Linked DNA regions of Homo sapiens. The protein of the gene in region 1 interacts with the protein of each later gene in a pairwise test. Each region holds a gene or a part of one and is shown on either strand. Other genes may lie near its edges.

What was found.
Region 2: the proteins of MTUS2 (region 1) and DMRT3 interact in binary tests that used the Homo sapiens proteins (3 or more experiments, as listed by UniProt).
Region 3: the proteins of MTUS2 (region 1) and ZNF76 interact in binary tests that used the Homo sapiens proteins (3 or more experiments, as listed by UniProt).
Region 4: the proteins of MTUS2 (region 1) and ZMAT2 interact in binary tests that used the Homo sapiens proteins (3 or more experiments, as listed by UniProt).

Annotation. Positions count from the first base shown.
Region 1 is NC_000013.11:28,823,339-28,830,376, forward strand, and holds part of MTUS2 (microtubule-associated tumor suppressor candidate 2), read left to right. Parts: intron 1-7,038. UniProt on the Homo sapiens protein: Binds microtubules. Together with MAPRE1 may target the microtubule depolymerase KIF2C to the plus-end of microtubules. May regulate the dynamics of microtubules at their growing distal tip.
Region 2 is NC_000009.12:979,623-986,660, reverse strand, and holds part of DMRT3 (doublesex- and mab-3-related transcription factor 3), read right to left. Parts: intron 1-7,038. UniProt on the Homo sapiens protein: Probable transcription factor that plays a role in configuring the spinal circuits controlling stride in vertebrates.
Region 3 is NC_000006.12:35,255,606-35,262,772, reverse strand, and holds the start of ZNF76 (zinc finger protein 76), read right to left. Parts: upstream 3,039-7,167; 5' UTR 2,932-3,038; intron 1-2,931. UniProt on the Homo sapiens protein: May be involved in transcriptional regulation.
Region 4 is NC_000005.10:140,703,444-140,707,221, reverse strand, and holds the end of ZMAT2 (zinc finger matrin-type protein 2), read right to left. Parts: intron 3,305-3,778; coding exon 3,231-3,304; intron 2,797-3,230; coding exon 2,651-2,796; intron 1,610-2,650; coding exon 1,466-1,609; 3' UTR 536-1,465; downstream 1-535. UniProt on the Homo sapiens protein: Involved in pre-mRNA splicing as a component of the spliceosome.

The DNA.
Region 1 (7,038 bases):
GGGAGGCTTATAATATCTACCACACACATGTTTGAAACGAGTTGTTGAAAAGAGTCAAGGAGTTTCCCCTTTTCTCTGAAATGATTTCTACTTCCTATGTGAATTTGGATGCCTTTAGATCTTATCATCTTGACCCTTCCCACCAACGGGTATACCTTGTCTATCAATTACCCATCCATCAGTCATCTATCTACCATCCACCCACCCATCCACAGAGACTCTCTTTTTGACCAAACTTTAGTCAGGCTCCCCTGAGCCCTCTTCTCAACTGGGCCTCAACCTTGGCCCGTAAGAACTGCAGCTTTCAACACAAACAATTTTGTCTGTGCTCCCACCCTCCAACGGATTTGAAAACACTGTAGCATGGTGTATTAGCCTGTTCTCACCTTGCTGATAAAGACATACCCAAGACTGGGTAATATATAAAGGAAAGAGGTTTAATTGACTCATATAGTTCAGCATGGCTGGGGAGGCCTCAGGAAACATAGAATCACGGTGGAAGGGGAAGCAAACACGTCCTTCTTCACATGGCAGCAGGAGAGAAAAATGAGCAAAAGGGGGAAAAACACCGTATAAAACCAGCAGATTTCATGAGAACTTACTGTCGCGAGAACAACATGAGGGTAGTTCCCCCATGATTAAATTACCTCCCACCTAGTCCCTCTCATGACACATGGGGATTATGGGAATTATAATTCATGATGACATTTGGGTGGGGACACAGCCAAACCATATAACATGGCATCTAGCAGCCTAAGGCCATGTGTCTGGGATCACCCAGCCTCACTTGCATTCCTACCTAGAAAAGCTCAAGGCTGCCCCAAAGAATTTATCTTTTGTTCTAGCCCACACAAATGATAATAGGCCCCTGACTTTCATTTTGTTAGATCGTTTATTAAAAACTTACAATTGTAATTCTTTCTCTGTGCCTTTGAGATATATGTGTATCTCCTACCACCTGGAGTGTCTTCCTCAGTGTCTGTGAGCCATTCCTTTGAAGTGTAATCATCAGGGAGGATAGGGCTCTGTCCTCTAGTCTCTGTAGATGGGTAGGAGCCTAACTTTGACAAGTGCCATTTAGCAGTCACAGATGGCCTAGTCTCATTGGCAAGCCCCCTTGCCTGATTGCTGTAATGTTCTGTGTCCTTGACCCTGCTTGAGCCCCCACACATTCTCATTTCTCCTCCCTACTTCCTTATTCTCCCTTTAAAACACCCAGTCACCTCTACCTGAATTGGAGTTGAGCTCAGTTCTATACTGAAGTCTCTTTCTCTCACTGCAGTTGTACTGGGTAAAATCTGTCTTTACTGCCTTTAACCAGTGTCTAGCTTTTTTTTTTTTTTTTAAACACCATCCAACAAAAAAGTTTGAGTGTCTCCATAGGCCAGGCACTTTTACATATTAGGTATAGAGCAGCAAATAAAACAGACAAAAACTGCATCCTTGAGGAACTTACAGTGTAATGGAATGAATCAGATGAGGTTAAGTACTTAATATATCAGGTATGGATACTGCTATGGAGAAAATAAATCAGAGATGGGGGAGCAGGAGTGGGTTATGGGGAATTGCTATTTCAAGTAGTGTGGTCAGGGAATGCCTCACTGAAAGGAGATGTTGAGCAGAGCCCTAAAGGAGATGGAAGAGTGAGCCACCTGACCAGAGTGCAGCTGGCATTTGTGGGGAGCACAGGGAGGCAGCTGCAGGCCGCAGTGGGGGAATCTCATGCTCATGGCCAGCTTTTCCTCATGACAGCAGCCCCATCCCCCACTCCAGCCACCTGAGGCTGCCCACGAACACTGGTGTTGTTCTTGGGGCCTTAGTGGTATGGTGGCTTGGAACTGAGGACCTCTCAGGGCATCGGAATCCAGCCTAGACCATACCTGAATAGGAGTAAGGAATGAGAGTGTATGTTTTCAATGATGGCTCCCACTGGTTTGTCATAGGAAAGAGGCTGGGGGCAAGCTCACTCCAGCCTGGATTCCCTGCAGTCACCCTGGGAACAAATGGAACTATGATGTATAAAAGATGTGGACAGTGGAAACCACACGGCTCTTTCTCGAGGAATGTCTTAATATCAGGAACCTAGAACAACTTTCTGATTTGAACTGAGCCTAGAGAGAATCCCCAGCTTAAAGGGAACTGGGGTTGGTTAGGGTTTGAGGAGGGGAAATTACTCAGTCATTGACCGAGGCTCCTGCATGCCCAGATGGCTGCTCAACATCTGCTAACCAGAACAACACACACACACACACCCCTGGCAACAGGCTGTCATGAATTTCTCCATGGAGAAGGTGAAGAAACCATTGGGGAGCAGCAGCCAGGGCCTGTCTGCTGGTTTTTAGTTACAGCCTTTCTATACTCATGGGGACAGGGGTATGGAACCAGGATGGGATAGCTGTTTCATTTTTTAAGCTGTTAGCTTGTAACCATTTTAAACTCTCAACAACCAAAACACAAATCTCTCATATAGAGGTTCCTTGGATTGTTTGCTGGTGGGTAGGGAGCATCACAGCAGCTTGAGTGAGCATATGCAGCTGGCATTGGGGAGGTGGCATTTATAGGAGTCTGGTGTTCCTGACTCTTCTCTGTGCCTGTCATGACTTCATGTGGTCTCTTACTTTGCAAGCTTCTCTCACGTGCCCTATTGTATTTGGAAAATGGGGAACTTAAGGTCATTCCTGGGTATTTGATACTCCTCTTTAGCTTTTGTAAGTGGGCCTTCTTCTAATTGGTTGTATATATTCTATATGTTGGTTGTATTACATATAACCAATAATTGATATATAGAAAGCTATTCTAAAATGTAATGTAACCAAGCACTTTTCAAGCTCTTATTAATTATAACCTTGTTTTGTGGTTATTTTCCTTGGATTTTCCAGATAGATGGTCATATCATCTGCTAAATAAGTAAATAAATCAATAAATTTAAAATACATGGTTAGATGAATGAATAGATAAAAAATGATTACTTTGGTCTCTTTATTTCTATTTTTTATTATCAGACTAGATAGAAGACGAGACTGTTTATCTGTTGAGAGATTTTAAAAACAAGATTATTGTATTTCAGCCAAATGTACTTCCCTTGTCCCAGAGAGGATAGGCTATATGATCTCTGAGGTCCTCTCCTTATTAGTCTTTTTACTCTGTTTACTGTAGACCCATTGTACCAGTATGTTCAGTTCCCATAGAAAAACAAAAGAGTGTTTACACACAGTCATTATAGATAAGCCAGCAGTGTGTGTGATTAGGGCCAAACCAGTATTGATGATGGCCTGATACTGACTTTAGAAAGTTTGACTCACCTTGCAGAAATGAAAAGCCAACATAATGCATTAGCGTCTATGAAGACTGTAATAAGGCAAATACATTTGTCCAGAAACAGGCTGATATTGATACACTGATTTTAAGTGCTTTTCCCCAAAAGTACAATAGAGAAAGCCAGGAATATATAGCCTTGGATTACAATAAATGATAATAAAACAGCAGAAGCAAATAACACTTAATAGGGAAGTTTATTTTCCACACTTCATCAGATTGCTACTGCAGAGTACTAGTCTAAAAATTTAATATGAACACTAGCTCTGTAAATACGGGAGAAGTAATCTCAAATCATCCTGAATTAATTATCTTTGTGCTAAGCTGTTTGACATTACTCATTGAAAATAGCTTCTCAAGACAGGCAGTATTTTTCTACACACAAATAATTGTGTTCTCAGGTTGGAAATGTTGCCACATATTAAGCCAAACACATTTTTTTGCTTCTAATTCTTATATTACTATCAGTTTATTTCAGGGAAAGTTAATTTGAGAATTGAAATCATGTAGCAGAATAATTTTGGTTGAAATTGATGTTTCTAAGCCTGATGCATTTTCCATTAGTGTTACATGGTATCATTGGAAGTTTGTACAGTGAACATGCCAAACATTAGGTTTAGTTTTCTGAAGACTCTAGCAAGTATTCTTTTTTTTTAAATCCACATTGTATTAGTTTAACTGGCAGGTAGTAATTAGTTTTATATTGAGTGAGCTAATTTGCCACTACTAGCAGATTTTGAAGTTATTTTAATATAAATACATTGTCCTCTACCCCCAAACTTTATACTGAAATTTTTCTGCTAAATTTTAGGATTATAATTTTGATAATGGCCCAGGATATTGGAATAAAATATAAATGTGAGTTAGCATTAATATCTCAGTTTAGAGAATAACAATAAAAGCAGGAATGTGACCTGCAGCCACATTTCTTCAGTATCGGGGGAAATTCAGCCCCCAATATTTGACGTGGGTCCTTTTCTATTTTCCCTAAGTATTGGCCGGTCTGAGAAATAAAGGGAAATAGTACAAAAGAGAGAAATTTTAGAGCTGGGTGTCTGGGGGAGACATCACATGTTGGCAGGTTCCGTGATGCCCCTCAAGCCGCAAAACCAGCAAGTTTTTATTAGTGATTTTCAAAAGGGGAGGGAGTGTACGAATAGTGTGTGGGTCACAGAGATCACATGCTTCACAAGGTAATAAAATATCACATGGCAAATGGAGGCAGGGTGAGATCACAGGACCGGGGTGAAATTAAAATCGCTAATGAAGTTTTGGGCATGCATTGTCATTGATAACATCTTATCAGGAGACAGGGTTTGAGAGCAGACAACTAGTCTGACCAAAATTTATTAGGCGGGAATTTCCTCGTCTTAATAAGCCTGGGAGCGCTACGGGAGACTGGGGCTTATTTCACCGCTTATCCACAACCGTAAAAGACAGACGTTCCCAAAGTGGCCATTTCAGAGACCTCCCCTTGGGAATGCATTCTCTTTCTCAGGGGTGTTCCTTGCTGAGAAAAAGAATTCAGCGATATTTCTCCTATTTGCTCTTGAAAGAAGAGAAATATGGCTCTGTTCTGCCAAGCCCACAGGCAGCCAGACTTTAAGGTTATCTCCCTTGTTCCCTCAACATTGCTGTTATCCTGTTCTTTTTTCAAGGTACCCAGATTTCATATTGTTTAAACAATTTGTGCAGTTAACACAATCATCACAGGGTCCTGAGGTGACATTCATCCTCAGCTTATGAAGATGACAGGATTAAGCAATTAAAGTAAAGACAGGCATAGGAAATCACAAGAGCATTGATTGGGGAAGTGATAAATGGCCATGAAATCTTCACAATTTATCTTCAGAGATTGCAGTAAAGACAGGTGTAAGAAATTATAAAATTATTAATTTGGGGAACTAATAAATGTCCATGAAATCTTTACAATTTATGTTCTTCTGCCATGGCTTCAGCCGGTCCCTCCGTTCGGGGTCCCTGACTTCCTGCAACACTCCAGGGTCAGCAGTAGAGAGAGGCTAGTTGAGCACTTGCCTCAGGTACAAAATTTAAGGGACACCAAGACACTTAGTAATACAAATAAATATTTTATGCATTTTAGAAAATCAAGATTAATGCAAAAAATCCATAATGAACAAAATATCAAAATTTTAAAGGAAGACAGGATCAGTATTACTGAGTTTTCCTTTTGTGTCAGGCTCCAGTTTGGTTTGTAATAGCACTGTTACTGATCCTATCTATAAAGTTTTAATATTTCGTTCATCATGGATTTTTTACATTAATTTTGATTTCCTAAAAATATTGCATTAATATATTATTTATCTTGGAACACATCTGAATTATTGGAGTAAAGACATTCTGAAAAGTCTCTCCTGCACAATAACAATGAAAGCACTGGCAAAAATATCAAAATAAACCATTTTAGAATGGTGGAAATTAACGAAGGGTTTATAACAATCTGAGGAATATTTATTCAAGAAAAAGGACTGAATCTCAGTAAGAACAGTGAACTTTGTCATTTTTAAACTTACCTTATTCCCATTCCTTCATCCGCAGCTCCATTGTAGCCTTCAAAACTAATAGCCTAAGTCAGGCACAGTGGCTCACACCTGTAATCCTAGCACTTAGAGAGGCTGAGACAGGTGGGTCACCTGAGGTCAGGAGTTTGAGACCAGCCTGGCCAACAAGGTGAAATGCTGTCTCTCCTAAAAGTACAAAAAAAAAAATTAGCCAGGCATGGTGGTGTGTGTATGTAATCTCAGCTACTTGGGAGGCTGAGGCAGGAGAATCGCTTGAACCCGGGAGGTGGAGGTTGCAGTGAGCTGAGATTGCGCCACTGAACTCCAGCCTGAATGACAGAGTAGGACTCCGTCTAAAAAAAAAAACAAACAATAACTAATAGCCTAGAAGCCACTGAAAGGGACAAAACAGGTTTAGAGCCCTCTAAGATCCCCAGTCTCAGAAAATTGTCACTATATGATTGCTCTAGAAGCTTCTTAAAAAACTCCATTCTCAAAGCTTGTTTTGCAGAGCCCTGTGGCATTTTTGGAAAACAATCAGCAGTAATTGTTTAACCTCTCAGCTGCCTGAGGCAGTGACACCAGTTGGGGTTAACAAGAGGTTAACCAAAAAACTTAAAAGGAAAAATTGGAAAAGGAGCTACCTATGGGGGCTTTAAAAACCTTTGATGTAGTCTTTGGAATCTAGAAGTCCCATGTCTGTATGTCCAGGAAATACTTAATAAGGCCTTAATCTGTCATCTCAGACTAACAATGAGGCTTTGCATAAGTAAAGTAGGAAGAGAAGACTAAGAGTTGTAAACTACCTGCTGGAGTGTTAAAAGCATGTACCCCACCCCCCAACACGCGTAATCCCTCAGCAAAGACAGAAATCTCTGTACCGTCATTAGCTGACCACTGAAGCTAGACTTCAGCAGCTGCACATGATAAACAAAGTAGACTTTACATAATTAGTCTGGGAAATAGCAATAGAAACAATAGTAGCAACAAATATAACAACAAACCTTTATGCAGAGTGGAATCTTATTTCTAGGTTGCCATATTTTTTTAAATCCAGTTTTCAACATAAAATTTCCACACACACAAGCAGTAGCATATGGGCCATAACAGGAAAAACAAAAGTATCCCTGAGAAAGTCCAGATACTGGACTTAGTAGACAAACATTTTAAATTAGCTATTATAAATGTGTTCGAAGAGCTG
Region 2 (7,038 bases), on another chromosome or scaffold:
TCAGCCTCCCAAAGTGCTGGGATTACAGGAGTCAGCCACCACGCCCGGCCAGCTCAACTATTTTTAAAAGAAATATATGAACCAAATAGCTTTGTGTTTTAAAAGGTACATCCCCTGCCCCCACTTTAGATAAGTTTCAAACACTGAAAACATATTAGGAAGTGTTTTCTCAGGTCTGTCAACCAAATTGACTCTTCCACAGTACACTTCAGTCTCCAGAAAAAAAGTGGATCAAACAGCAGAAGGCTAACTGAAAGGGGAATTAGGGAATGAGGTTCTCACTAACATAATGACTCTACCATTACAAAAATGGAGGCTTTTTTTTTTCAAGGTAGCAACAGATATACTGTCCCAATCAACTGAATACTTGATACCAGGATTACAAGTCTGACAATATAAAATTCCACTCTTGTACCTATTTTCCTAAGTTCTGCGGAACAGACGGTAGTGGAATCTTATGTCAGTGCCAGCTTGTTCAGCAATTGTGAACTCTCAGACTGTGAAAGTCACTTTCTCATTTTGTTGTGTTACCCTTTGCCCCTGCTACTGGGACATGCTAGTGCATCATGCACTTCTGGTTACTTGTCAAGGAGTGGTGATAGATTACACCGAATCCTCCATGCTCTCTCCGCAGGTCTCTGTGCCGTCTGGCTATAGCCAAAATATGAGAAAAGCTAACACAATGTCACAGGAATCAAATCTACAAATTCAGCGTAAACCAACCAACCAGCTGAGCTCAGCACTGCTTACACTGTGTTCAAAGGAAAGACAAAGATGATGAAAGAACAAGCAGAGCACACCTGTGAGGCTTATGCACCTGAGCCGCACACAAGGTCCTGCTAAGTAGTGCTGGGTGAGCCAAATCCCCATCAACATGTAAGGCTGTTGGAGTTTCAAAACTAGGCAAAGGAAGACTAGCCTCTAACTTTGCACCAAGAATAACTCCTCACCAAACAATAATTTCTGAAGGGCAGGATATATAGTTCCTGCAATTTTGTGGCGCTATGGTGTCTAGTACTGGTTGTATTATTGCACCTAAACTAAATATATTGTAAATTATTCTATTATAAATACAGACTTTCACAGGTAATTATAGAGGGTGAGTTTTGAGCCCAGTGATAAAGTGTAATTTAATAACAGGTACTTCTTTACATCTCCAGATTTGTTCTTAAATAAACTTTACAAATCATTCTAGTTGGTTTAAAACATAAAGGCCTTTCTAGACATAGAAATGTGAAACTGCCAACTAACAAAATAAAATAGGAAATACTCCTGAAACATTTTACCTTCTTTCTTCTTGAAACTGAAACCCTAATTCCTAGAACATTAAGAGTGTATATCAACTGATAATATTTTTACCCCGGTAGATGGGTATAGAAAGTCAAAGCTATTAAACAGGGAAGAAATCAATTTTATCGAATATGACAAATATTACTGAAAGTGATACAATATGCTGTTTCTATTGCTAAACATGTACATATTTTTAAAATCTTAATATTCTCTCTTCCATTTCATATTTCATGGGGTAGAAACACTTATAGCTATCCCTGAAATAAACTGTGCACTAGGGTAAAGAGGTTTTTAAAAGAAGTAGATATTCAATTAAAAAGAAAAGTTTTTCTACAGATAACAATGCTACCGACTTCAAAATATATATGCCATAAGATGACTACAATACTTTTTTTTCTTTTTTTGCTACAAGACTTTAAAGAGAGAAAATAAACACTCACAAAAGTGCTTTCAATCTAAAATTACAGTTTGAAAATGTAACTTTCTTTAGGGGAGTTTTTCACATAAAAATGCAATTTAGTAAAAAAAAAATGTATTATTTCAAATACTTTGAGAAAGTCTACCACATATGAGAAACAAACATTCTGCTCACGATGCATAAAAGTGAAAAATCTGGCTGGGCGCGGTGGCTCACACCTGTAATCCCAGCACTTTGGGAGGCCGAGGCAGGTGGATCACGAGGTCAGGAGATCAAGACCATCTGGCTAACATGGTGAAACCTCATCTCTACTAAAAATACAAAAAAAAATAGCCGAGCATGGTGGCAGGTGCCTGTAGTCCCAGCTACTCAGGAGGCTGAGGCAGGAGAATGGCGTGAACCCGGGAGGCAGAGCTTGCAGTGAGCTGCAGATCTCACCACTGCACTCCAGCTGCGGCGACAGAATTAGACTGTCTAAATAAAAAAAAAAAAATGTGAAAAATCTTTCTGACTTAGATGTCATAGGTTATATCCATTCTATCCAATTATATCTACGAAAACAAAATAGTTCTTACATACAGAATGAAAACACAGAAAAACTCGAGCAGAGAGGAATATTTCCTAGCTCAAAAGTCACTGGACTCCCCCATCCCTTTTGAAATCATGTCACGCATTTTGAAACATAGATTGTCATATCCTCATCTGTTCACTTGAGCTGTGGGGAACACACCTGTAAATAACAGGTCCTTGATGGGTAGTTTTCAAAGCACATAAATCTTACAACAATGGCAAGGGAGGGAGCCCAGGCAGGATGAGACTTTTACAGGAGACCATTGCCTAATCAGAATTCTAATCGTAGACAAACGCTTCACATTTTCTCTTACCTTCATCTCACACTAGAAGTGATGAATTATTTTAAAAAAATGAATAGTTGAAAATCTAAAGAACACCAGGGAATGATCTCGATCTAAAAACTTTCCTTTTCTTCCTGGGGTGGATTGCCGGGTTGGGGAGGGTTGTGAAAAGTTAAAAAAAAAAAAAAAACTAGCCATGCTTTACTTTTTAAAAAATCATTAACAACACTGAATTAATAACGTATGAAGGAATCAGAGTGGTTCCTTGACACTATATTTTGGGGGAATATTGCTATAGACAGGACTGGGCTGAAGGAAGTATGGTTTGCAACTGTGGACCTCACATATTTTGTAAAAAATTAGTTTTGATCTCTTTCTTGACTCAGAAGGGAATACCTTCCAAGAAGCAGAGGGGAAATTACCTACAAATCTACATGTTTATTTGGTACCTTCCAAAATGCACCTGTCTAACTCATCCATCTATTTAACAAATGCCCCTAAATGCCTTACTATGCTCTCATGTACTGTGCTGGGTAAGATCATACAGAGATGATCAAAGCATTGCCTCTTGACCACTGAGAGGCATACAGTTTACTAACTAATCTTTTGCAAAATTCCAAGTAAGCTGCAGTTGGTTATATTTCACAGTGAAATACAGCAAATAATTCCAAGGATAGCAGCTGGGCAGACCATGGTGTCTTCACAGGAGGAAATATTGTTTTAAATGCTTACATATAAAGATTATGGGTGCTAGAGATATATACTGAACTAAACAAAGTAATAATCAGTGGGAAAAACGTGGAACACTAATCCCAGCTCTGTAAAATTTATGTCTGCCTAGTTGTTGTAATCAAGAGATTGGAGATTTTGTAAAGAATTGATGTGCCGACTCTTAAGTTTTTCATTATTATTATTGTTACTTGGTACTTGATTGTGCCTTTTATAGCTGTTTATGCAATAAAATGCAAAAAAACCCCATACCTAGTTATTTTAGTTTCCCTTCTGAGAACAGTAGTATGCATTGCTCAGGCAAGAGGATGACTCACTAAGGCGATGTGGGACGTAACTGACACAATCACAAGGCGGTGGACCTGTGAGGACCAGCTGTCCTATCACTGCATCCTCCACCTCTGCCATGAGCACCCGTGCACAAGCCATCAGAGCCACACAGGACTAGACAAGGAGGTCCAAGGACCTGAGCAGCTAATGGCTAAGGGGCTGCAACAGGTTTAAAGGCGGGAAGAAAGGAAAAAAGCAAGAGGCGAGGAAGAAAGGAAGAGAAAGAAAGAGGAGGCGGGCAGGCAGGGCAGGCAGGCCCATGGTTTTTTGCTGGGCTTAGTCCTCCTTCCCGTCAGGAAGAAGTGCAACATTTCCAGAAAAGGGCTCCGAGTCCTCCAGGGACTTTGATTTATGAAGATTTATTCCTTTTCTCTCTGTAAAGCTGTTAGCAGAAAGTGCTGACTGGCTGCAGCAAAGAATTTCTCATCAATGCTCTTTGATTGTATTTTGCAAACAAAATGCCTGTTGCTTGGTAACATTTCACTTGAGCCTGACCTTCTCCGAAAGTTATTGCTATCAGATTCGATTCACACTGTCCTCCTGTGATTACTGTAATCTTTTAAACCCGGGAGTTCATCCATCAGGGAAAAAGAAAAGTTGGTTGTGTAAGTCGAGAGCACGGCTATCCTCCAGATTTATAACACCAAGGAGTGATTTGGAGGTGGAGAGAGGTTCTTTCCCAGATGGCAGTAGAACTCTGGTTCCTAGACGTGGAACACACTCTCGTTTTTCCTGCCAAACCGTCCCAGATCCACAGGATGGACCCCAGCACCTCCCTGACGCCAGTCCCAGGCAGCTCGGGCTCTGCAGAGAAAGAACTAGGAGATGAGCACAGGCGACCCCACCGCCAAGGGGTGCCCTGCGTGGGTACTGGGGCTGGGTGAGGAAGGCCTAGGCCTATGGTTGCCAGATAAAATAACAGGATGTCCAGTTAAGTGGGACCATCAAATAAACAAAGAAGGCTTTCTAGAGAAAGTATGTCCCATGCAATATTGGCATCCTATTTTTTGTTTGCATGATTTTTGCAGAAGGTGTCAACTCACCTCGGGACTCCTGCCTTGGGAAGGAGAGGGTAGTGAAGCTCAGGAAGAGCAGAGAGGGAGTGGTGGCCCAAGAGCTGGGCAAGGGAAAGGCAAGGGATGTGGCTGTCTCTGGGCGGTTCCTGAGCTGCCTAGTGAGCTGCTTCCTGACAGTGACCAAGGAAAGAGCCGTCCCCAGCAGGCGGCGAGAAGCTGGGCTCAGCTGCAGCTCCGACCCCCTGGTGCAAGGAGACGGCAGTCCATTGCGGCCGCAAGGAGCCGCTGCCCCCTATCTTTGCCCCTACTTTGAACCCGCTGTGGCCAGGGTCCCAGTCCTGGGCCAGCTGCCGCAACCCTCCGCAACACACACACAGCAACTGCACTGCGTGCAAACCGGCCAGGCCAAGAGCTGGGAAGACCGGTCCCCAGCAGCATCCCAGCCCCAAGAGCCAGCCCTGGGGTGGGGTTTGGAAGAGACCTTAGTGCCTGTATGCGTATTCCTTTTTATTTGGTTGGGTTTTGTTTTTTAAAATGCAACTGAGTCAAGCCCCTCACCCTCAAATCAAGCTGTCTTAAAATGAGACCCTGTTTTTCAATTCACAGGTACACTTCATAAATGGTTTTTAAGTATTTCCCGCTTTTCTTTTCTTCCTAGCCAACAGTCAGAGGGTTTCTCATCCTGGCCTGGACGAGTGTTCCGTAACACCCATTACACTTGCAGGTGCTTCTCTTTGGGGGAAAAAAAAATTAAAAAAAAAGGAAGTGGACTTTGCGGGACCCAGTCAAGCCGGAGCAGAAAAGCCCAGAGGCAAGCATAAAGATGCTAGGAGGCGCAGGGCAAGAGGAAAAAATAAAATAAAGGCAGTTTTCCAAAATCTCCTAACTTCTCCCCCTATAGTTATCTTGTTTGCTCCGCCCCCACCCCCTAAGAAATAAACAGGAAAGAAGATCCTACTTTCCCATTTGATCCTTCTCTCTTATTCCTAACCATGTTTTCGATTTCTTTTTCCTTTTAAAAGCATTTAAAAGAATGTGTGTACATATTCATTTTGATGGCAGATGGAGACCTAGGAAGAGTCTACAGCCACAGATCTTTCTTCTCATCGCACCACAGTCTAAGGTGTCCGAGGACACTCCCCTGGAGGAAAAGTTGGGGGTAGGGAAGGGAGCCACAACACAAGAATGTAACTTTAGCTTTTCACCTTGGCAGTGACCCTTAACTTCCCTCAGCTCTTGAGCCCACGTCCTGAAAGGCTGGCTAGGCTGATTAAAACTGCTGATTCAGATACACTAACAGTTGGAAGATCTTCATGCCTCCTGTATTTTCATGGGGAGAAGGAGTATGAGAAGAACATAGAGGGAATTTAGGAGAAGAATAAATGAATTAAATAGTGTATGTATATATACATATATATATACACACACATATATAGCTTAAATTAGAATTTAAATTTAAGCTATATATATAGCTTTTAATAGATATATATAGCTTAATATATCTATACATAGCTTAAATCAAAATGTTCAGCTCAATCAAAATCTAATAATTAATTCCAGGTCCATCGTAGATGGTAATCAAAGAGAAGGAGAAATCTACATTCAAAAAGAAAAAAGAATACTTCATAACTAGAAGTAAAAACCACTAGAATATGAAAATTCTCCTTAAAAACACCACACATTGAAAGGGATATTCAACATACTACACCATTAGATAAAATAACCCCATTCCTTTAAAGAATCTAAAGCAGAATTTGAGAAAAAATTCTTCCAGTTACAAAACTGAGTTTTGATGTGAATATGTCACTCCCTCAACGGGGTGGTTTTCCTCCAGTGATTCACAGCAAACATACTCTTCCTTAAGGCATGTGCTTTTCTCAAAGATTTCTGGAGAGGAAAGACTCCATGTGCTTCTGTTTACAAGAAAAAAAAATCTCTCTTCACAGCTTATGTATTAAAGAGGTCCTTTGCCCCGCAAAAAGACTAACCACATTTCAAAGTCAAAGTTCACAAAGTAATAGATCTACATTGCCAGCAGATATTGAAAGATTTCTGATGGTCTGTATACTTAATGTACATGTGGAACTACCATTCCAATAGAGTTCTGCTTACTCTCTGCACTTAGTTTTGCTTACTCTCTGCACTTATTCAGGAGTAGTTCTGATATGCTTCTAAATACATATGGAATGTTATACACAAATACATTATTAGAACAACTGCAAAAAGGGTATAATACCTATAGCAACAGGCAGTCTCAGTGAGCAGTTTTCTTCAGCTTAAACCCCAAATAGACTTTATTTCTACAAGCACTGTGTAGAATGGATCCACTTGTATGCCTGTCTTCCTAAACAATCATCTATTATTTTCCTACCTTTCTCCCCACTCCCCATCAGAGTGGTGA
Region 3 (7,167 bases), on another chromosome or scaffold:
GGAAGGAGCCGATTCCATTGAAGCTAGTCACATCAAGAGGTCACTAAATGAAGGACAAATTATATGAAGGTTTCAGGTCACAGAATGTGGCTGAGGATGGCAGAAGGTGGGGTGGTGGGAGTAGAACACTGAGACTAAAAAATAGGATGAAAGGCAACTGGGCTAGATGGTTTTAGAGCATACAGACTTGTGGATTCCTGGGGCTAAGGGACTTAACAAGATGAAAGGATTTGGGGTAAAGTGCCAGTGAGGTGGGAGACACTGTATGGTGAGTGAGTTCACAGGGAAAGGGCTGGAAGCGTCAAAGATTCATAGAACAAGAGATATTTGGGCAAAGGATGAAGAGAGAAGTTGACTGGGTTCAAGACACTACTCCAAAATATGGCAACTTGAGAAAATGGCAGTAGGAAGGTCACTCTCACTTTCTCTGAGGCTCTTCTCCCCTGAAGCAGATCACAAAACCTAGGAAGGATTTTTCTGACTTTCCCCTGAAGCAGGTCATAATACCCTCCTCATAAAGAGGTGCCCTCCCTATACTCAGAGGAAAGAAGCACCCTTATCTGTGAAGACACAGGGACACAGAGAAGAGTCTGAACAAACAGGCCTTGCTAAGTTTCTCCCAGTTTATTACTATTTGATATTACCCTTTTTGTATTTTTCCACAACTATCCACTCTTCATCAGATCTAGTATAAAAATATACAAGTTTAATCATTTCTTTAGGTCTTCATTTCCTTATGAAGGCTCCTGTCACATAAAACTTACATTAAATAAATGTATATAATCTTCTCTTATTAAATCTGTTGTTATAGGGGCCTAAGCCATGAACCTAAGAAGATATTTTCCCTCCCCTACAAGGTGCAGGGGCTTCAGGGGATATGAGATCAAAAGTCATGAACAGCAGGATGAGAAAGTCACCAAGTTACATGGCAAACGGTAATAGAAACCTTGGGGGTCAGGGCCAGTCTTGGTGGCTCACGCCTATAATCTCAACTACTTGAGAGGCTAAGGTGGGAGGATCTCTTGAGGCTAGGAGCTCAAGAACAGAAACCTTAGGGATCAAGGAACGAGCTGATGTTGTATTTAGGAATTACTAGAAAATAAGGAATAAGGAGCTGAGGTTGAGTAAGTCTGGGGGAAAGACAGGCAATGGAGTAGGGTTTTGTTTTGTTTTTTTAAACTGTGGGTTCAAATCTTAGCTCTGCTACTTAGCTGTGAGAGTTTCTGGTTCATTTCTCTGAAACCAACCAACCAACCAAACAAAAATATGGGAAGGGAAAATGGTGGATATAATAATAATTAACTCTTGGGGCTGTTGAGACGTAAATTTAACTTATATATCCAGAGCTTGGCACACAGTAGGTATTCAGCAAGCCAATCGTTATTGAGGCAAAATCAGGGTAAGAACCAGAGAAGTGAGGCTACAGCAGAGATGAGAAGATAGGGATTCCAAGATGTCAGTAGTAGCAACATAATGCAAGGTATGGGCCACATGTTCAGTCTGTTAAATCCCTAGCACTCAGGACAGAGTAAGATCCATAGCAGCTTCTCATTTCTAACAACAGCTTATGCTAAGGGTTCCCATGAGCCAGGCATGGTGCCCGGTGCTTTACATATGTTATGTCAGGCACTACTATTTTCTCCCTTCGCAGAGGTGGAGACTGAAGTTAAGACAGGCTAAATAATATACCAAAAGTCCCATAGCTGAAGGGCCAGAATCAGTCTGGAACCTAGGTTTGTTATGAACTCAATGCCCCCAAATGAAGCACTCTGCTATACTGCTTTGCAAACATGTTAACTGATGGGGCCTGATCAAGGGAAATGGGTATGCACTATGAAGAGTGAAGAGGGTGATCCGGGAATGAGGGAGTAAGGTTCATGATGCAAGCAGATCCTGGGATGAGGTTACAAGAGGAAATTTCCAGGGTGGGGTACAAAAATGATTGCAAAAAATTATTATCTTGACTGAGAACTGCATAATTTCACAATTTCACAGACGGAAGGAAACTCAAAGATCATCTAACCCAACCTCATCACAGTCATGATGAGAAACTGAGGTCCAGACTGAGGAGGGGACTTCTCACAGGTCCCTAAAGCACAGCAGTGACAGAGCTGGGACCACACACTGGATTGACTGGATTCTGGATTGATCCAGAATTCTCTGATGCCTCCAATTATTACTACTTCATATTAATCTCTATATCCTCCTTAGCACCAGAAAGGTGCTGGACGCTTGTAAGTCATGTGCTGATTGACACTGAAGGGCTGGGATCGCAGAGAGAGATGCCAGTGGGGGTGATTTTAGGATAAAGGCAGACGTGGAACGAGGGTCATACGGCTACAGGATAAAGATACTGAGGGTTGTGTACAAGGTGAGTGCGTGGAAAACTATTGGAGTAGGGCTTAGGAGTCGCCAGCAGAGTTTTGAGGGGAGTCACCGAGTTTGTGGGGAACACAAGGTAGAATCGGGGGGGTTACTGGGCCAGGAGGGTTACCCAGGTTTGGGGGTCACTAAGGAGGAGTGTGGGGATCTCAGGGTCATGTGAGTCACCGGATTAAAACTGAGGGAGTCACTGGTTGGTGGGTCTCTGAGAAGTGCTGGGGAAATTCCTGGGTTAGCAGCCAATGAATAATAACCAACGGTTACCTGGTGAGGTCTTGGGGTCAGTGGGTGGGGTGTGGGGTCACAAGGGTGGAGGCGGGCGCCGTCACGGGGTGAGGTTTGGGAGTCACGGGGGAGGAGCCGCAAGGCGGAAAAGAGGGGCAGGGACCCTGGGTGGGGGAGGGGGCCCGGCCGCGGTCCAGCGGCCAGGCCGCCCTGCTAGGGCCGGAGGGAGGTGGGCACGCCGGGCTCGGGACCTTCCCGGGGTCCTGCGCCCGCCCGGCCTCCCGCCCTGGGCATGGTTGGCCCACTCCTCCCGCAGCCACCAACCTGACAGCCCCCGAGGGCGACTCCGCCGACAGACCGCCATGCACCGGGCCCCGCCACCAGCGCCGGCCCCACAACCCGCCTGCGCCATAGCCCGCCCGCCCGCGCGCAGCTTGCCTCGCGCGATATCCAGGTTCCAGGGCCGCCGCACTTTCCTTTCCTCTTGGCGCGCCTCTACCGGGCCCCGGAACCCGTATAGAAAATACCGGGCACGGTCCACCCCGCCCCCCGCTTCGCCGCGGCAGCCATCCAACTTATCCTGGTTCCGGGGCTCCTGGAGCCCAGGCGGCCGGGATCTGAACCGAGCTCTTCGGAGCCCCGCCCCCACCAAGGCCGGGGTGACGCATGGCCAGCGAGGCTGAGCGCCCAGGGAAGGCGTGCTGACGTCACGACGCCCGGGTCAGGGCCTGGGCGCGGCTCGGAGCCGGGTCGTCGCTATAGCAATCGGGAACCGCTACCTGTCCATTCCAAGGATTCGGTCCAGCAGAAGCGTGAGGAGGTGGCGGAGGCCCCGAGGGCTTTGCGTCATCACTTCTGCGGCCTGCGGGCGAGAAGGTGCGCTTCGGGAGTAGCGCGGGAGGACAGGAGGCGCAGGTTGTGAGGGACGCAGGCCCTGGGGCTTCGGTCTCTGTCCTCCGAGCTCAGAGCCTCCAGGCTTCTTCCCGGCCGCGCGCTCAGCACTCACTGTCTTACGGTCCCGAAGCGCTTTAAGGTGCGCAGTCCGCAGGCCTTGCCTACTGATCTTCCAGCCACCCCTTGAAGGAAGCAGTTGCAGGTATTAAGAGCTCCTTATTGAAAAGGACGATGTAGAGGGGCGGTGAGGGACTCGCCTCCGCAGGGAGGGCGCCCTGGCGGTCTTCTCAGGTTCTCTCTCATTCCCGCGTCAGCTCCACCGTCAGGCTCGAAACCGACTACTCCCTTTTGTAGGCTTGCTTTGGGTTGAACATAAAAACCAAGCCCCTTTACTATTTCCCTGCTGGGAGGGGCTGCGATTGGGAAATTTTCAGAAACCTGAGGGAAAATTAAAAGGGAGCGAGCTTTCGGTAAAAAATCAAATTAAAAAGGAGGGGCGTTAGAGAAGGAACTGGTAAAGATTGCCTTTTAGGAGAGGAACTGGGTGGCTGGAAGAATGAGGTGAGAAACTTTCCCCTCTCTATCCTTTCAGACTTTAACTGGTTTCTTTTGTATCTTCCCCGCCCCGAAAACAATTTAACTTAATAAGAATAATTTTTAAAGGACGTAAACTAGACACAGTTACAAAGTACGGGGTTTGGGGCTTGTGGTAGCTAAAGGTGTCTTTGGGGATGCGGGCATCCTTTTCCTCTCCTGCCTGAAGAGCTTAACTAGAAAGCCCCCCTTTCGGTCTTAGACATCCCCTCTTCCTGACTTGTTCTGGCTGGGACCAGAGTTCAGTTTAGGTAGGCCAGTGAGTGACATTTGATGGTTAGAATTCCTACGGTTAGAATTAATCCCTTCTGTATCTCCTAGTATGGAAATAAACTGCCTGGCCACTATGCTGCCCTCTTTCCATTCCTTTTTGGTGGAAGTTTGACAAGTTATTTCCCATAGAAAATAACTTATAGGCCGGGCGCCGTGGCTTAAACGCCTGTAATCCCAGCACTTTGGGAGGCTGAGGCGGGCGGATCACGAGGTCAGGAGTTCGAGACCAGCCTGGTCAACATAGTGAAACCCCCCCTCTCTACTAAAAATACAAAAAAATTAGCTGGGCGTGGTGGCGGGCGCCTGTAATCCCAGCTACTCCGGAGGTTGAGGCAGGAGAATTGCTTGAACCCGGGAGGCGGAGGTTGCAGTGAGCCAAGATCGCACCATTGCAGTCCAGCGCGGGCAACAGTGTGACTCCGTCTCAAAAAAAGAAAAAAAAAAAGAAAAAGAAAAAGTACCTTATAGATACAGAGAGAAGATTAAGTAGCTCCTCTTATAATATGAATTGAGGGTTAGAAATACCGCAGGGAATAGAACTCAGGCTGTACCTGAGTTTGTCCCTCTCCAACCACCCTTTTTCCATAGCTCTCTCTGTATATATATATCTGTCTTTTCTCACATTCCTTACGGATCGTAATCTGATGGCCAGTCACCTCTGCAATTATACATTTAACAAGAGCTCTGGGAAACAGTGTCTGAATCTGAAGTAATGATCCTAATGGAAGGTAATTTCAGGTTCTCAGGAGAATTGGTGAGGATATTTTGGAGGGCAGTATTGAAGACCATTGCTAGCAGTTTCTCTCCTATCCCTTCCACTCAACATATAGGCTGGTGATCTTCAGACATTTTTTAGAATGAACCCATAAAAGAATTTTGAAGAGCTATGTACCTCTTGTTCATTTTTAAGTTGATACCTAAATTTTCCTTCATTAATTTAAATACTTATAGAGGATACAATTTCAAATTTTGACATCTTAAACTAAGACTTACATCATTCTTTTTTTCTGAGACGGAGTCTCGCTCTGTCAACCAGGCTGGAGTGCTGCAGTGGCGAAATCTCAGCTCACTGCAACTTCCCCTTCCAGGTTCAAGCAATTCTCCTGCCTCAGCCTCCCGAGTAGCTGGGACTACAGGTATGCGCCACCATGCCTGGCTAATTTTTAGTAGAAACGGGGTTTCATGGTGTTAGCCAGGATGGTCTCGATCTCCTGACCTCGTGATCCGCCCGCCTTGGCCTCCCAAAGTGCTGAGATTACAGGCATGAGCCACCACACTTGGTCTACATCATTCTTAATGTATCTGGCAGGGCAGGCACAGTGGCTCATGCTTGTAATCCCAGCACTTTGGGAGGCTGAGACAGGCGGATCCCGAGGCCAGGAGTTCGAGACCAGCCTGGCCAAGATGGTGAAACCCTGTCTCTACTAAAAATACAAAAATTAGCCGGGCATGGTGGTGCGTACCTGTAGTCCTAGCTACTCGGGAGGCTGAGGCAGGAGAATCACTTGAACTCGGGAGGCGGAGGTTGCAGTGAGCTGAGATCGTGCCACTGCACTCTAGCCTGGGCTACAGAGTGAGACTGTCTCACATTAAAAAAAAGTATCCGGTGGATTCCAAGTACCCTAAAAATCTAATGCCTACCATCATCCACTTAAAAATATATGAACAAGCTCTTCAACAGAAATTTTATATGGTTCTCTTTCTCCTTATACTTTGAATTCCATTCACTTCCTGTAATCATTAGTATATAACTTACTAAACTTTTTTTTTTTACTAAATATTACTAAATACTAAATTTTCCTAAATATTTTTAACATTTTTATGACTTGTGAAACCTAAAAAGTACAATTTTTATTGAAAATGCATCTGTTAATGAGAAATATGGTGTTTCTCCCCAATTAGTTCAGGTATTCATGGATTAATATTACCTAATGGTAGAAGGAGATAAGGTGCAACATCAATCCTTTACCTGTTTTTTATTTTTATAGACATGAGTATTGAGAAACCTTGTTTCCACAATTGGGAAAGGAAGAGATTTGTTACAATGATATTCTTTGAGTCTTTGAACTTCTAAATTATATGCCAACAATCACAGAGTGATCTATTAATACTATCAAATAGAGTCTTCTTTTAATTTTGTTAAAAGCAAAGGATTAGAAACCACTGAACTTCCAAAAGGATTTAGTTATTAGAGTCTCAGTTTTGGTTTTATTAAACATGATTATTAATTATCTGTGACCTTTACACTCAGAGACACTTTGTTAATCAGATATTGATTTCCATACTTCTTTGCCTACACAATATTTTTTGGTAAAATTCTTTAATTATTACATGTCTTCAAGAACTTTTTGTTAAACTGAAATGCAGATTCAGCTCATTCACTGTATAGAAAACAACTGCCATTTGTGGAATTGGCAAAGCCAGTTTTCATTTCAAACCAATCAGCCAAATCAGACCTACTTTCTGTTAGAAACATGTCTGACTTTATTCTTCCATTCAAATAAATATGTTAACATTCATTTTGAGGAATATTATAAAAATTATTAGGAAATAAATGATTAACTATAGCTTATAAAATGGACCACTGATAAACCAGTCAAGATTAAAATTATTTAGACCTACTATTAACATAATAAATGGTAAAAATAAGATAGTACTGTTTTTCATTATATAATTAGGAATAATGCTGTATAATGTATAGTTAAATCCATCAGTTTTGAGAAGTCATATAGAAGGCATATATTCCCTTGGTAAATGTGTGTGCCTGCTTTCATCAAACTCTTGTTGTTCAGCTTTTGG
Region 4 (3,778 bases), on another chromosome or scaffold:
CAGTGCCAAAATTAAGTAATTCTGTGTCTAGCAGACAGTAAGAAAAACACTAAGGGCCAGGTGCAGTGGCTCACGCCTGTAATCCCAGCACTTTGGGAGGCCGAGGCAGGTGGATCACCTGAGGTCAGGGGTTTGAGACCAGCCTAGCCAACATGGTGAAACCCCATCTCTACTAAAAATACAATATTAGCCACTTGAAGCCAGGAGGCGGAGGTTGCAGTGAGCCAAGATTACGCCACTGCACTCCAGACTGGGCGATAGAGCAAGACTGTCTCAAAAAAAAGAAAAAAAAAAAAGAAAAAACATTATGTTCAATCCTGAGCTCTGCTGTTCCAAAAACAAAAGATCAAAGGAGTCTGAAATGATAGGAATCGTTTTGGTTCAGACTTCTCTGGACATAGATCCCTTATCAGACGAAAACATAACTCATGCTAAAAAAAAACCTAGGCAAAAATAAGATTTAAAATGGAAGAATAAAATACTCTATATGGAAATCCTCAGCATGAGAAGGAAAAACAAATATTCACAGGGAAGATTATGGAATGTTCTCACCAAATGTAAAACAGGCCCAGTCAATGCCATTTATTATACATGTCAAACAGCTTCTAAGACCGACGGGCTCCCATAATAAGGTTTTGGGGATTTTTTGTTTTGTTTTTCATTTTCTTTTTTGCATCAAACAGGTTCTTCCAAAAGCCTGCTCACAAGGTAGACAAAAACATAAATCTTCAGGAAAATGAAACATGAGAAGCTGAAACAATCTACACCTGAATGTTAAAAAACTCATCAGACACAAACCACACCAAACACTCATCCCATTTAATTTCCTGTTACATGCTCTGAGGAAGCCAAGAACATCAGGCCCCAGGGCAGCAATGCTCTAGGATTCCAGCTCGGACCCCCTCTATATGACAGATTCATGCACACACATCCACACACCATAGAACCAGGCAGAAATACACATGCATGCACAGGTGGCTAGAGAACCATAGGGCAGGATGGGAAAAAGGGCTGATCAAGGATATGCAATCAACTGGAAACTGGGACCTAGAGAATGCTTCTGTTGCAGGATGAACATGAGTTAAAATTAAAACAAAGGCAGAACACAGGATAAAGGTGGGATGTTCAGACAAGAGGTGGGATAGATGAAGAGATAAAGATGCAGGGGGAGTTTTGGGAAAGCAGCCTCAGAAGGGGAGGTTTTTCTTTATTGGGAACTCAGGTGGGCAGGGTCCTGTGACTCCAGTGATACACTGAGGCAGAAGCAATATGCCACAGCATTACCTCTGCAATCTGTGCCCTCTCCCAAAGTAGAGGGAAACCATGAGCCCCCACCCTCTATCCCTCCCCATTGACACTCTTAAGAACTTTCCCATTACCCAAAAAGAAATGACCCCCTACTACACACACACACACGCAAAGTTAGGTCCAGCATAGGCCAAAGTCAGGCCAAGCACAGAAAGCCTCAGTAACTCTTCTTGGTGGAACCAAAGCCAGAGAAGCCCATCACAGCTGCCATCTCATCGTCCTCCTCAAATGTCAAGTCCTCCTCAGCCCTCCTTTTCTTCTCCTTCTGTTTCTCTTTCTTGTACGCTTTGGCCTTTTCCTCCTGGAGGGAAAAATCACTCAGAATCAGTTTAGACTCCTCAGCCAAATGTTGTTTGTAACAACAACTAACATTCTGGGGCATGCAGTACATGCCAGAAATTGCTCTGAGTACTTCATGTATATTAAGATCTCTAATATGGGGATATTGAGGCACAAAGAGGTTATATAACTTGCCCAAGATTCACAGCCAGTAAGTGGAAGAAACAGAATTTTGACCCAGTCAGCCTGATTTCATGGGTCTCTTTAGGACTAGGTACATTTAGTTAATTCCTCTTGCAGTTAAAAAAAAAAAAAAATTATGGGGGAGGCTATGCATGTTGTGGGGGACAGTGGGTATATGGGAAATCTTTATAACTCCCTCTCAATTTTGTTGCAAACCTAAACTCCTCTAAAAAAAGTTTAGTCTTTTAAAAAAATTAAATCAAAGAATACAGATGAGACAGTCCTCAACTTATGATGCTGACAAGATTTTTCAATTTTATAATGGTGAAAAACTGACATGCATTTGAAACTGTACTTCAAGTATCCATACAACCATTGTTTTTCACATTCAGTACAGTATTCAATAAATTAATGAGATGAATACTTTATTATAGAATAGGCTTTGTGTTAGATAATTTGGGTCAATTGTAGGCTAATGTGTTCTGAGCACATTAAGGTAGGCTAGGCTAAACTACAGTAGGTTAGGTGTATTATGTATTTTTGACTTATGATATTTTTAACTTGATGATAGGTTTATCAGTAGGTAACCCCATCAGAAGTTGAGAAATATCTGTATGACCAAAAAAAAAAAAAATTTTTTTTTAAATTACAAAAAAAAAAATAAGGCCCAGAGAGTCTAGGAGAAAAAAGTAGTTTCAGAGCCATTTCCTTCAGATCATGAGAATCCTAAACAAAGGCAACAAATGTTTCCGCTAATATACAGAACTCAGGAGATACAACTCTGGGGGTGGGAGTAGGAGTGGGATGAGGACAGGGTCTCCCATGATTCATAACATAAAACTCAAATCTGGGGGAGAGGGGAAGGATAGGAGACCCTTACCTCTTCTCTGAGCTCCTTCATCCTTTCCTCAAAATCATAATCCTTCTGCTTCTCTTCCATCTTCTTCTTGTTGACCTCAAAACGTTTCTTCACCTGATCCAGGGTGGAACGTTCCACACGCATAGACATGCCCAGGTTTCTCTGATCTGCATAGGGTCAACAGTGAAGAAGGCAAGTTCATTACAACATCCTCAGCCCCTCAAAAATTATTTTCCTGACTTCTCTGACATCTCATAAAACACACAGCAAAAATAATTATGGCTAAAAGAAACTCCCTTGGCCAGCTGGGTCCAGGAGCAGCACATGGTTTGGGTGCTGTTGAAAGCCTCATGGCCTCCAGAATGAGGCCTCTTACCTCACGGCCTCCAGAAATATTACATAATGAAGTAAAAGACGGCCTGTGCTGAAACAACTGGAGAGTTCTAATAGGGGCATCAAAAAAGAGCCCAGTAGAAACTACCCTTCTTACTCCAGCCATCTTTTGATGAGTAAAAAGAAGAAAAAAAAAGCTACCCTTCCATTCCACCCCACCTCCAAAACCCAATTCCAGCCCTAGTCACAAGCTACCTCCAAGCCTTACGTTTCTTTCCATTAATGTGATCCAGAAAGTTGATGGAGTCCTTCACCACACAGTCACAGACATTGCAGTAATATCTAACAGGAAGAAACAGCACCTGAGTCAAATATGGTTTTAAGGATCTTATCATTTTCAACCAAGAAACTCAAATTTTTAGGTAAACTTCTTTTTAGAAGTGTTAAGCCTTCATTTCTATAAAGCCTTAGCTTTCGAGAGAGTATAGCAGTCATCTTCCAAGACAGCCCCAGGATGAGCCCCACCCTCTTGGTATTCCTACTCTGTGTAGTCTCTTCCCAATTTGTACCAGAGTTGGTCTGTTTGGCCAATAGAATATGTCAAAAGTAGTATCTTCCAAAATTAGGTTATTTTAAAAACCATGCCTTCTGTCTTTGTTTGGGTTACTTGCTCTGGGGAAGCCAGTTGCTTTATTGTGAGCAGTCTTATAGAAAGGTCTATGGGGTGGCCGGGCATGGTGGCTCACGCCTGTAATCCCAGCACTTTGGGAGGCCGAGGCGGGCGGATCACCTGAGGTCGGGAGTTCGAGACTAGCC